Linked DNA regions of Homo sapiens: regions 1 and 2 are each linked to region 3. Evidence: fine-mapped expression QTL. A gene starts in region 3. Each other region holds a variant in brackets. All regions are shown on one strand. Distances are from middle to middle.

Region 1 (4,189 bases), 35 kb after region 3:
ATAAACAATTCCAATACAGCGTTGCAGGAGGGGCAGAGGGGTGCAGACAACAGGCCACTTGGCATGCTCTTGAGGGATCATGGGGCTGCACTCAGCCACTGCCCCTGAGTAATGACCTGACACGGCCACCTTCTCCTTGCCCCCGTCTGGGCTTGAAAACCAAGATGTTCACATTTGGAACATACATGATGGAGACACCCCCGTCCCTCCCTGCCCACTCCCAAGTTCAGGCACTTGTGCTGAGCTGACCCCTAAGTCACCAAGCACCACAGTGCCCCTGTGCCCACATGTCCAGGTCGGGGGTGGCTGCAGTAGCACGGCGTGTTGTCTCTGTGTTTCTGCTTGCCCTGCGGATGAACGCACAGAGCGCATGAGGGAGGCTGTCTCCAGCGCCCTGATGTCCAGCACAGCTACAACCCCTTTTGCAGCCTCAGGCTGGGAAGTGGGGATGGGGGCTGAGGGAGGGCAGGAGCTGGGATGGCATGGCGGGGACGGCGGAGAGGACCAGCCACGCTGCTTGGAGAATGTGGTCTTTTCAGAGCAGCCCTTTGAAATCGAGCAAGAATAACTTTAAACAATAAGATGCTTCTCTCTCCCCCTCAGTTGTTGCCCAGGCAACGCCAGAGTGCTCAACAACTGTTTAGTTTTTTAAGAAACCAAATCTCCCTCCCTTTGGTCAGCTACCGCCAGGAAGATGAAGAGGCGGTGGCGCTGCCCCTTGCGGCCCATTGTGTTGGACCCGGGTCAGCCGCCTGCAGCAGTGACATTTAAATCTGATGCTACATATTATATATGAACCCCGAGCCGCACTCCTTCACGACTTGTGCTCCCTAACCGGGGAGGCTTCAATCTCCCACCCCAGACTTCTTGCCCGCTTGTGGCTCTGGCAGTCCTGGGGAGTCACAGCTGAGAGGCTGACCTCTGCCTGGCAAAGCAGCTGGGAGCTGAGGAGGACATTGGGTGGTGATCCGTCCCCAACCCTCTGCATCACGGACCCATGAGAGCCCTCATCAAGCCAGCAGTCACCTCATCCACCCAGGCAGTGTTTAACCCCCAGCAGCTCTGCTAAACTGTTTTTGAGGGGCCTTGACCTCTGCACCAGCAGCTCACCTGTTTTACATTTGCCTGCTCAAAAGGCAGATTGGTGCCCTTTATCTCTGTAGGGTCTTCCACAATCCAGCAAGAGACGTTTTTTGTTATCCCCAGTTACAGATAAAGCAGCCCAGGTGCAGAGAGCTCTGAAAGCTGACTACGAGATGTCAGGCACTTCCAAACGGAAGCCCTGATGGCCGCCCACGGAGCCAGGTGCTACCTCAAGCCCATTCCTCCAGAAGTGGAAACTGAGGTTCCAGGGGTTAAAGTGATGACCAGTGGGTATGGCAGGATTTGGACCTGGGCCAGCCCAACTGCAGGGCCTTGCGTCTCATCCTACACTGCCTTGGTGAGACCCTGTGACTCAAGGACAGATGGGCAGATCTCTCCTGGCTCCCAGGCTTGGCCAGTGTGCCCTCCTAGAGTGGGGATCGGTGCCCCACTTCGCCTCTAAGGAAGGAACATGATAAACTTTGGCAACATGAAGTTCTGGGTTGTGTGTCCTTAGGCAAGTTCAAAGAAGGTATTTAAATCCTCACTTTGCTTATCTGTAGAATGGGGACGGTCTCCAGCTGGCAGCACTGTTGTGAAGAAGCAAGTAATGACAGCTGCCCCGTAGAGAGAGCTGACATGTTTTGGGCAGTGTCTAACCACTCCGTTTAATCATCACAGTGACTCCAGACTCAGGTCCTATGATCATCTCCATTTTCAGATGAAGAAA[C/T]AGACACCCCGGGAGGTGGAGTCACATGGCTAGAAACTAAAGCCAACGAACATAACCCACAGGGACAGGTCCTGGCACATAGTAGGTTCAAAGCGGACATTGGCTGTCTTCTCCTAGGAAGATAAATAGAGGGGATTCTGTCTCCTGGGAAACAAAACCTGGGAGAAAGGTAAATTTAGAAAAACGAAACCAGGTTAGCGCAAGCCCCTTATCCAGCTCGGCAGCACAGTCAGGATGGGAAATTGGCTTCAGACACAACAAAAACTAGAAGGGGAAGTCTCGACATTTGTGAAATGAGAGAGCAGGGGTAGGGGAGGCCAGGGCCCTGGACTCTGAGGAGGGATCTGCTCTTCCCTACCCAGGGCTTGAAGGGCTGCACGAGGGGGGACGCCACCAGCAGAGGCTGGGGCAGGGCCGGTTCCAGGCCCAGACGGGGTGAGGGAGTCCCACACCTGAGACAGATGGCCTTGCCCCATCTGGGAATCCCTGGAGGTTGTGCCGAGTCCCTAGCAGTGACAGGAAACACAGGCAGATGACAAGCTGCCAAGGTGCAGGGATCACATTTCCTAGCTGATGCTTCCGCCCCATCTCCTAGGGCCCTTTCTCTCCCAGGAAACTGGTGGACACTCATCCTCCAGTTCCCACCTCCCCCTGCAGAAGGCTCCTGTCCCCGCGTCCCCCCTTCCTGCCCCCGCCAGCGCATCTCGTTTAGCACCGCTAAATGGCAAGCCCAGAGGTACAATGTCGGAAGGGGCTGGGGTAATGAACTCCCATTGGCTTCCTTCACGAGATCACTGCCTTAATTTACGAGGCCTGAGTGAGTCTCATTTCCCCAGTGCACGTTGAGTAATTAACTATTAATAAAAGCATTACTGAGTTAACCATGGGGGCATGTTTAATTCATGGGGCAGCCCAGGAACAGGATGGGAGGCTTGGGCTCAGTGGGGGATTCCTCGCAAAGCAAAATATTGCCAGCAGGATGCCGCCAGGCCCTGGGCCCCCTACAGTGGGCCACCTTTTCTGTCCCTAGCCAGAGTAACCTAATCTCAGGAGGGTAGTGAGGCTGCCTGCCATCCCAACCACAGGGCTGCTGAGCTCTGGGAGGTGTAAGCCCCTGCTGGGCTATAGGGCTGTCTGCTTGGTGGCTAAAGAGCTGAGTGACCTTGGGCAAGTCACTTGGCCTCTCTGAGCCTGTTTCATATCTGGAAAGCAGGGCTGTTCAGAACCAACAGCTTCCCAGGGTGGATTGCAGGACTAAGGAGCTCAAGCATGGAAAAGGATGTGGTAAATGACCCAATGCTCTTTACTCGCATGAAATTATTTTAGGACCTCCCTCTTCCCCCTCCTCATGCTAGAGATACCACTGTTGACTGTTAGGGGGCGGGGAGAGGATCTACTTACTTGTTCAAAATAACATGATGGAACAATCCTATCAGGATACCTCCTCTTTTCAAAGATGGATCAGTAGCCCCGCTCCCCCTCCTCTTTCCCCATGTGCACCTCTGGCCAGCCACGGGTGAACAAATTGTTACAGCAGCCAAACACACCAACCTCAAGCTCACGCACATCTCTGCACCTTCGCATCTGCTTTCCCCTTGCAAGGTACGCCTCTTTTGTCTGCTTAGCAAACTTCTATTTAGTCTTCAAGACTCAATTCAAAAGGGTCAGCTCTTCCTGGAAGTCTGCTCTCCTCCTGACCCAGACGGTTGCTCCCTTTCCTGTGGCTCCCATACATTCAACTATTATGGCATCTGTCCATCCACCATCCATCCATCATCCATCTACCCATCCATCCACCTATCCATCTACCATCCATTCATCCATCATCCATCCATCCATCCATCCACCCACCCATTCATCCATCCATCATATATCTACCCATCCATCCATCAACCTATCCATCTATCCATCCATTATCCATCTCTCCATCCATCCATCCATCCATCCTTCATCCATCTACCCCTCCATCCATCTACCTAACTGTCCATCCACCCATCCAGCCATCCACCAACCCATCCATCGATTATCCATCCATCCGTCCTTTTATATTTGTTGAACAACTACCATGTACATCTCTGATCACACGGTTTTGAATGAGTCTGGCTTTCCATAGACCAATGATTCTTAATCTTTTGGGGGTCAAGGACACTGTCTCCCAGAAAAACATGTAAATGCACACACATGCTGGATGCTGCTTTCCTCTTCAGAGATCCCTGGTCATCCCTGAAGCCAGACTGTGGACCCTGGTTGTGGTAGACACTGTGATGTGGTGTTCAGGTCTCCGGTTGGGAGTGAAGGACTTATTTCCTCAGTTGCTGGGAGTCCGGCAGTCATCCTTCTTTGGGGTTTGTCTTGAAGAAACTGCCTTACCCAAAG
Region 2 (4,189 bases), 110 kb before region 3:
AGAAGGTGCAAAGGCGCGGCGGCTGAGAATTATCCCAGAAATGGCAAACACTGCAAAATGGTTCGAACCGGGAAGTGGGGAGAATTCGGCACCAGAACACACCGGCACAGCACAGTTGGCGTGTACTGGGGAGCCAACGGGGAATTTTGAGCAGGGGAGAGGGGGGCAGTTGTGGCATTAGGAGGCTTCTCTGGGGGCCGCGGCGTGGACACGCCCAGGGACACGCGCTGGGCGAGTGCCGTGGGAGGGGGCCTGGGGACACGGCCGCCGGCTCCTCCCGCCTGCGCAGCACGCGCGAGCTAATCTGCAGCTTTTCCGTTGCCGCGTGAAAAAGCCCTTTGTTCCGCCTTCTTCCCGGGCCTTTGTGTGGCGGCTCCAGGCCTTAAAGGCCCGTGTCCAACACATGTCTCGGGCGGCGGCGGCCCAGAGAGGCCTCGCCAGCTCCGGCCTCCGCTTCCCCATGCTGATAACGCTGGTGGGGGCGCCGCGAGGCTGCGCGCGGACAAAGGCCTCGAATGCCAAGCAAGCGCTCATTGTGCGCCAGGACAAAGCAGCCTGGTAAGGAGGGGCCCCTGCGCAGCCACCCGGCCCCTCCCACAGGCAGGAGGAAAGGGGCCTTTTTGTAGTCTCCCAGAGTGGGGAGGGGAGGACCCCAGAAGCATTGCCTGCTGGGGCCCAGAGCCCTGAGATGACCCGTCTGTGAGGCCTTGGCTGCATTGCCAAACCTCTCTGGGCCTCAACTCCCCCATCTCTGAAATGGGGATATTGACACCCACTGGGACTTCGTGGGTCTGAAAGCAGTCAGAGCTGGGTTTGAATCCTCTGCCACTGATTCTACCTGTGTGACCTTGGGCAAGTCACTCCTTGGCTTCTGTTTGCTCACCTGAAAAAGAGGATGACTCCTACTCACCCCACATTGTGGTGTTAGAGGAGGGGCGGGCATACAGGACAGTCCTTATGCTTTTCATGTTTACTGTCCTGGAGGTGAATGCCTATGGCAAACTATAAAGGGATGTGCCTATGGGTGTAGTGGGCATTATAAGCCGATCCCCTGAACCCCCAGTTTAATGCTCCATACTGTTCCTAAACTGCTAAACCCATATTCTTCTTGCCCCTGGCCACCTTGAGTCCCGCTAGCCTGGGCGAAAGTACGTGGGGAGGTTCAGACCCACGATTATAATTCCTCCCTAGCATGCACCTAACAGTTTGGAGCCTGCTTCTCCCCCAACCATCCCTCCATTCATTCCTTTATGCCCTAAACACTAATTGAGTGCCTTCTCTGTGCTGGTCTGTGCTAGACTCTGGGGATAAAGTGGCAAGTGAGATAGAAGAGGTCTCGGTCAGGCATCTTATGAGGCTGATGTGATCTCCCCCATTTTACAGATGAAGACACTGAGGTCCAGAGAGGAAACTTGCCAAGCTTAGAGCTGCCAAGTATGGTTGTGCAGGTTGTGTCATGCACAAAGATACCAGGCCGAAGTGGGGAAGCAGGGGTGAATTCCAGCGAGCCTTCTGCTTGCCCAGCCACGTGTCCTAGACCAGGAAGTATCAAAGGGGGGCCTGTTTCTTATTTATACAAAGGTGACAATGAGCTAGTGATGCCGATGCCCTGCTCAAGGGTGTACAGCGACTCTGTCACAGAACTGAAATTTGAAACCAAATTGGGGATTCTCTCCCAGAGTTTAATTTTTTTTTTTTTTTTGAGACGGAGTCTTGCTCTGTCACCCAGGCTGGAGTGCAGTGGTGCGATCTCGGCTCACTGCAAGCTCCGCCTCCTGGGTTCATGCCATTCTCCTGCCTCAGACTCCTGAGTAGCTGGGACTACAGGCGCCCGCCACCACGCCCGGCTAATTTTTTGTATTTTTAGTAGAGACGGGGTTTCACCTTGTTAGCCAGGATGGTCTCAATCTCCTGACCTTGTGATCCGCCCGCCTCGGCCTCCCAAAGTGCTGGGATTACAGGTGTGAGCCACCATGCCCGGCCGCCAGAGTTCTTTTTAGCCTGACCGACAGCCCATCCAAAGTTGAACCAGCCAAATCCTCGATGCATGAAGCTTCAGGGTCCCCTTTGCCCCAGCCTGGCCCCATCAGATATCTGAGTCCAAAGGAGGTTGAAGGAGGCTCTTGAGCATCATCAGCTCAGCTGGAAAGAACTTTGGAGACCTCCTCCCATTCTACAGGTTGGAGGATAGAGGCCAGGAGAGGACCAGAGACATGACATAGCCTGGGCTTCTGATCCCTCGTCAGGGCTGGGCGAGAGGCCGGGCTGATGGGAGGATGCCAACTGCCTTCTTGTTGTTTCTCCTCCCTTCTTGGCTCAGAGCTGTCTCCTCTCTCCTCCCTCCATGCTGCTGCTGCTCCTCCTCCTCCTCTTCCTCCTTCTCCTTT[G/T]CCCTGTTTTTCTCTTTTGTTCTTTCCTCGAGGGGAAGGGAGGGGCTGGAATCTAAATGGAGGCAGCTGTTCCTAAGGCCATAGGGCGGGGGCAGCGGGGACCCGCCATTAACTAGCTAAAGACCTGGGGCTGGGGGTCAGTTTGGCTGGCTGAGCCCAGGTGTTTTTATTCCAGCTCAGGGAGCCAGAGAGTGAGTGGGAGGGAGGGAAGCAGGGAGGGGTGGGAGGAAGCAGTGTGTGGCAGGGACTGTGGCCTGGCAAACTTAGGGGTGGAGGGGTGGGGTGGGGGCGAAGCTTGTGCAGCTCACGTGTAGTGCTCGCATGGGTTGTGTATTTGGTCTGTGTTGTGGGTGGACAGTGTGTGTTTTGTGTGGCGTGAATATGTGAGTGGTGTTCCTGTGTGTGTGAGATTGTGCATTATAGTTGAGCAGTGGCTCAAGAGGCAGCAGCTCAGCCCTGGGTCTGGATCCAGGTCTGCATTGCCCCCAGGCAAGTCACTTCCATCTTTAATTCCCAGCAAAATAGAGATGATAATCCTACTTTGTAAGTTGTCGGGAGAATGAAACGCATGTAAGGTGCCTAGCTGAGTTCCAGGAAAATTACTCCATGAATGGGAACTATTGTCACTGTAATTATTATTCAGAGATGTCTGGCAGGGAGTACACAGGAGTCCCCCCAACCCAGTGTGTGGCTTGCATGCCTGGGGGCGGGGAGGTAAGATGTAGGGACACAGTAGTCTGAGAAGGACAGGAGGAAGCTGTGGGTCTAGAAGGTTCTGCTTAAATTTTGCAGTCCTACTTCTCATTTGGTGACAACAACCTGAAGGGCAGCAAGGGGAACTAGAACAGGTGAGGCTGGGGGAATAGGGAGAGAATATGAGTTTGTGGCAGCTCGTGTGTGTGTGCACCCACACATGCAAGGGAGGCCTGGGAATGGTGCTTAGGGGTGCAGATCTGATGCCCATCTGCCTAGGTTTGAAACCTAGATGTGTGACCTTGGGCAAGTCACCTAATCTCTCTGTTCTTCAGTTTCCTTCTCTTAAAAATGGAGATAGTAGGCCGGGCAGGGTGGCTCACACCTATAATCCCAGCACTTTGGGAGGCTGAGGCGGGAGGATCACGAGGTCAGGAGTTTGAGACCAGCCTGGCCAACGTGGTGAAACTCCGTCTCTACTAAAAATACAAAAAATTAGCTGGGTGTGGTGGCATGTGCCTGTAATCCCAGCTACTCATGAGGCTGAGGCAGGAGAATTGCATGAACCCGGGAGGCAGAGATTGCAGTGAGCCAAGATCGCGCCATTGCACTCTGGCTGGGGAGATAGTGTGAGACTCTGTCTCAAAAAAAAAAAAAAAAAAAAAAAAAGAGAGAGAGACAGAGATAGTAATACCTACCTCACAGGCTGGTTGTGAGGTTCGGACAAGTGACTACCAAGAAATCCTTAAGATGGTTCTTGGTGTACAGACTAGCTCTTACTTTTCTTTGTTGAGCAAGACTTTGTATCATGAGCTCTTCGAATCCTCAGATACTGTCATCACTCTCATTTTACAGAGGAGGAAACTGAGGCTCGGAGAAGCCAGGTATCTTGCCCTGGGTCACACAGGGCTAGTTAGTGGCAGAGCCAAGCTCCCATGTCTGTTCAGAGCCGGAGGTCTAACAGCATCCTCTTAAGGAGCCAGCCAGGTACACCTGCTAGCATTTCTGTGTTAGCAACAGCACAAAATGCTGCTGTTGTCAAGGTTAGGGTGGAGAAAATGGGGAGGGTGCTGCTTCCTGGCTGGGGTGCACGTGTGGTTTTCCTCTAC
Region 3 (4,189 bases):
GTGGTGGACCGGGAAGGGCACACAGACATCTCCAGGAAGCAGTGTTTAAATGTTGGCAATGCCCTTCCCTTCCAGGAGGAATGGAAGAGGAGTGTCCCAGACACTGGGACAAGGAGGGAAATAAGGGTGAAGTAGAGAAATGGCTGGGGCAGGGAACAGTTGAGTGCTACAGAAAAACTGAGGCAGACAGGATAGAAGATGGGTCGGGGTTGGGGGGGACGAGGAAATGGTCATTGGTGGGCAAAGACCAAAGGATGTCACTATGGGTGTAGAGGCCAAGTTTCAACAAGGGCTGTAGACTAGGGGCAACTGAGGGGGACGGAGTGGGCACTGATGGACACATATACGGGATACAAATGAAGGACAGAGAGTCGCGGTGGTTAGGGAGGAGCCTTTGGGCCCTAGGGCAGTGGTGATGCTGATATAGGGTATTGGCGCTGACCAGTGGGAGAAGAGGATGAGATCCTGAACCTGGGTGGAGAGGGAGAGAGAGCTGGCAACAGCCAAAGCCCTCAAATGAGCCGCTGCCTGTGCTGGGGGCACCTCGGCCAGCCCCAGAAACCTGGGGAGTGCTGGAATCAGCCCCACGGAAAAAGAAGCTGGCATGCGCAACCCTGGCGACGCCCGAAGGGTTTGGAGAGAAGAGGTTCCAAGGAGCGAGCACCTCGGAAGACCTGAGCAGCTTCAAACAGCAGCTTCTCTGCCCGCCACAAGGGGGTGCCCTGCACCTCGGGGAGACCTCGGGGGATCCTGGATCAGCCCTACCCTCTGCAGCCCCGCCTGGGACAGGGCCCGACGTTGCCAGAGAAGAGGCAGCGGGGAGGCGCGAGCGAGACGGGTCCACACTGTGCCCACCCAGGGCTGCCCGGCACCCCGCGCGCCCACGCAGTCCACTCTTCACAGTAAACGCCGCGGCCCCCGAGGGTTAGCCCTAAGTGGCGCTCTCTTTGGACGTTAGGCTGTCGGGGGCCCCGTCCTTCTTCCCCAGCGGGGACGGTGTCTCCGGAGTCGGGTCCTAAGGAAGAGAGCAGCGCTGGCTCTCGCTCACCGCCAGCCCGCCCGACGGCCATAGGGCAGGGGGGGTCGCGCCGGTGGGGCCGGCAGGGGTCCCTGTGGGCCGCCTCCCCGGCTCAGAGGGGACCAGAACCGTGCGTGTCGCCGCGGCTGGAGTCAGCCTCCGGGTGTCCCCGGACGCGGCACGACCTCGCACACACACACCGCGCGCACACGCTCGCGCCGTGCGGTATTTTCCCGGCCCCGGACCCCGCCTCTGGGAGGGGCCGGGGAGCCGAGCCCCGCTAGCAGGGTTGGGGGACCGGGAACGCCTGGGTCCCAGCCCTCGCGTCAGGGCTGTGCGCCACCTTCCCAGCCCCTTTTGGCGCGCCGGCTCGGCCCCTGGCGCTGCCACCCCTCGGCCCGCGGGGGTCCCGGAGGCTCCCGGGCGCGCGGCGGACGAGGTTGTGGGGACGGGTGGGAGCTGCGGGCTTCGGGCCGAGAGGCGGCTCGGCTCCGCGCCGGGGAAAGTTTGGACGTGGGAAACTCCCTCCCCGCCCTCCCGGCCGAGAGGAGGGGGCGCGCAGGGCCGGGCGCAGGCACCCCGGCTCCTCCTGCGGCTGGAGGCTCGCCCCCCGCGCCGCCTGCCCGGCCGCTCCCGCCGGCCAGGGGGCTCCCTCCCTGCCGGGCAGCCTCCCCTCGGCGGCGATCCGGCCGCTCCTCCCGCGGCACCCCGCGCTCTTACCTCGGGGAGCGGCCCGGGGCTCCCCCTAGTCCTGCCGCCTCGGGACGCTGCGTGGGGCGGGAGCCCCGGCGCGGGCAGCGGGCGAGTCCGGAGCCCCGCGGCCGCCCGCAGGAGCCGGAGGGAGAGCGGGAGCGAGAGGGGGAGCCGCGGCGGCGTGTGCGCGCGTGTGTGTGAGCGAGAGAGCGAGAGAGCGAGAGAGCGAGGGAGTGAGCGAGCGAGCGGGAGCGAGGGAGTGTGCGTGTCTGACTGGGGGGAAGTGTGCAAGGGACGGATCCCTTCCTTCCTCCCGCAGCCTCTGGTGGAGACTCGGAGAATGCAGGGCCCGCCGGGCAGGAGCCGCGCAGCGCCAAGCCGCAGGCGGCCGCCGGCCCGGACCCCCGCAGCCGGGGAACCCCAGCCCCCGCCCCCCGGATCGCGCCCCTCCTACACCAGGAGGGGACAGCCTTTCCCTCTCTCGGGCGGCCCAGTCCCAGGAAACCCCCCAGGGGACAGTGCCCCTCCCTCCTCCAACCCCAGATCCGCGCGAAGGGAGCGCCCCCAGGAGGGGGACCATCTACCTCCTCGCCTGGCAGCTCCCCAGGTGGCCGCAGTTTGAGACCAGAGCCTATTTCCCCACCTGATTTTACTGCGAATAGGGCTTCCCATTTCCGCCCCCTGACTACTGCGGGAGGCCGCCTTCAGAGGAGCAGGGGCGCAGGCCAGGGTAGGAGCAGGCTTCTCGAACAGTGGCCGCCCCGGCTTGCTGCCCAGAAAGGCACCTTGCACAGACCAGATCTGCCAGTTCAGAAACAGTCACTGTGCATTGAGGTGGACACCGACCAGGTGCCCAGGGCTGAGTCTCCAGGCAGGTGGGAGGTCGGGTGTCCCCGGGAGAGAAACTTGTGGGCTTTTCCTCTGGAGAGTCCCGCTGGACATCCTTGCAACCAACAAAGTAAGCAGGCAAAACAAGACACCTCCATCCTTAACTTGGTGCCACCTTGACCTGGAGAAGTCTCCCAATAAAATCTTCCCACTGCCCAGAAACTCCTTGCTGGTTGGGTTTTCCGTTCTTTTAAAAATCCGGCTGGTCTGCTCCCTGATGTTTTTTCCACCTGGCCCTGTTTCTTTCTCCTGGCTGCCTGGCTCTCCTTACTACTTCATCTCTCTGGGATGAGGCCTAATGGAGGAGACCCTCCCACCCCACTCCTGAGTTCCCAATATGAGGTCGTTGATGGTAGGATAGGACCAGTGACTCCCATAGACCCACCCTTTGTCTTGGGTTGTAGGTCCCCTTAGGAGTTGCCCGCCCCCCTATTCCCCATGGCTTCCAGATAGGTGAGTGAAGGATAACAGGAGACTGGACAGCTGCAGACCTCTGTCCCGCCAAGCTGCCAATGACCAGCCATTTAATCACCCACAAGCAGCTGCTGAAGTTCATGGCAAAGAGGGGGCAGGGCCCTCCAGGACCCCCAGCTCTACCTCGCCCCTATCCTTCTCTCCTCCTCGCCTCCTTCCCCAATTTCCATCTCCATCTCCACACCCTAGTCCGTCTTGCTGATGATTGGAATCACCTCTCCTGCTGGCTGCCCCTCTGGCCCCTCCTACTAAACTCCATCATTCATTTATTTATTTTGAGATGTATTCTCCACTGTGCCAGTCTGTTCCCTCCCCTACGTCCTTCTCTTGGTTTATTTCCCTTCATTGATCTCTTCCAGCCTTGCCTTTCTATCGCCTTCCTTTTCTCCATCTCTCTCTTCCCCTCTCCTCTCTATTCTTAGCCTCCACTCTTTCATGCTTTCAGAGACCAGAGGCCAGCCTTCCAGGTGCATCTCTTCACTTTTGGTTCTCTCCTCCCGCTCTGACTCACTTTTGCTGTTTGCTCCAGTTCCCATTCCTTCTTTGCCTCTTCCTCCAGGCTCTGGTGTGTGCTGTTCATCTCTGGAGTCAGACCTACTTAGTTGTCCACAGGTTGTTTTGGTCTGGGACACTGTTGCTGTCACATCTGCATGCACACAGTAGGTGCTCAATAAATGTTATTGAATGAACTGTTGTCACATCTTTCTCTTTTGCTCTGGTCTCTCTCTTCTCTCTCTTTTATTTTTATTTTTTTTTGAGATGGGGGTCTCACTATGTTGTCCAGGCTGGATTCCTGGACTCAGGTGATCATTCTGCCTCAGCCTCTCAAGTAACTGGGACACCAGGCATGTGCTGCTGCACCCAGCTCCCCATGACTCTTTATTAGACCCTCAGGTTTTCCTATCCCAATGTTTCCTATTTTCAGGCTCATTCTACCGTTATTTCCAATTCTTCCTTCCTTCAACAAACTTTCTCTGAGTGTCCACTCTGTTGTGAGCACTATGGCTAGGCTCTGAGAACACATTGAATGTTTATTGAGCACTTGCTGTGTGCCATAGTTCTGCTTTTAAGTCCTCACAATAATCAGATACTAGTATTAGCCCATTTTACAAATGA

The links. PIP is the estimated chance that this variant, and not a neighbour inherited with it, causes the effect. A credible set is the group of variants that fine-mapping cannot tell apart.
Region 1: its variant is the best candidate, but not a certain one, in a credible set for the expression of CDH22 in skeletal muscle (GTEx, PIP 0.78).
Region 2: its variant is the best candidate, but not a certain one, in a credible set for the expression of CDH22 in tibial nerve (GTEx, PIP 0.85).

The regions. Positions count from the first base shown.
Region 1 is chr20:46,341,276-46,345,464 of GRCh38, forward strand. No RefSeq gene overlaps it. Among named protein-coding and RNA genes, the nearest start is that of SLC35H1, 21 kb to the right of the region's middle. The variant C/T (reference allele first, on the strand shown) is at 1,814.
Region 2 is chr20:46,200,670-46,204,858 of GRCh38, forward strand. The region is part of intron 7 of CDH22 (cadherin 22); the gene reads right to left. It also overlaps a transcript of LOC124904916 not described here. Among named protein-coding and RNA genes, the nearest start is that of CD40, 84 kb to the left of the region's middle. The variant G/T (reference allele first, on the strand shown) is at 2,388.
Region 3 is chr20:46,306,517-46,310,705 of GRCh38, forward strand. CDH22 (cadherin 22) reads right to left here and starts at 1,982. Exons shown (of 12, transcript NM_021248.3): 1 at 1,739-1,982.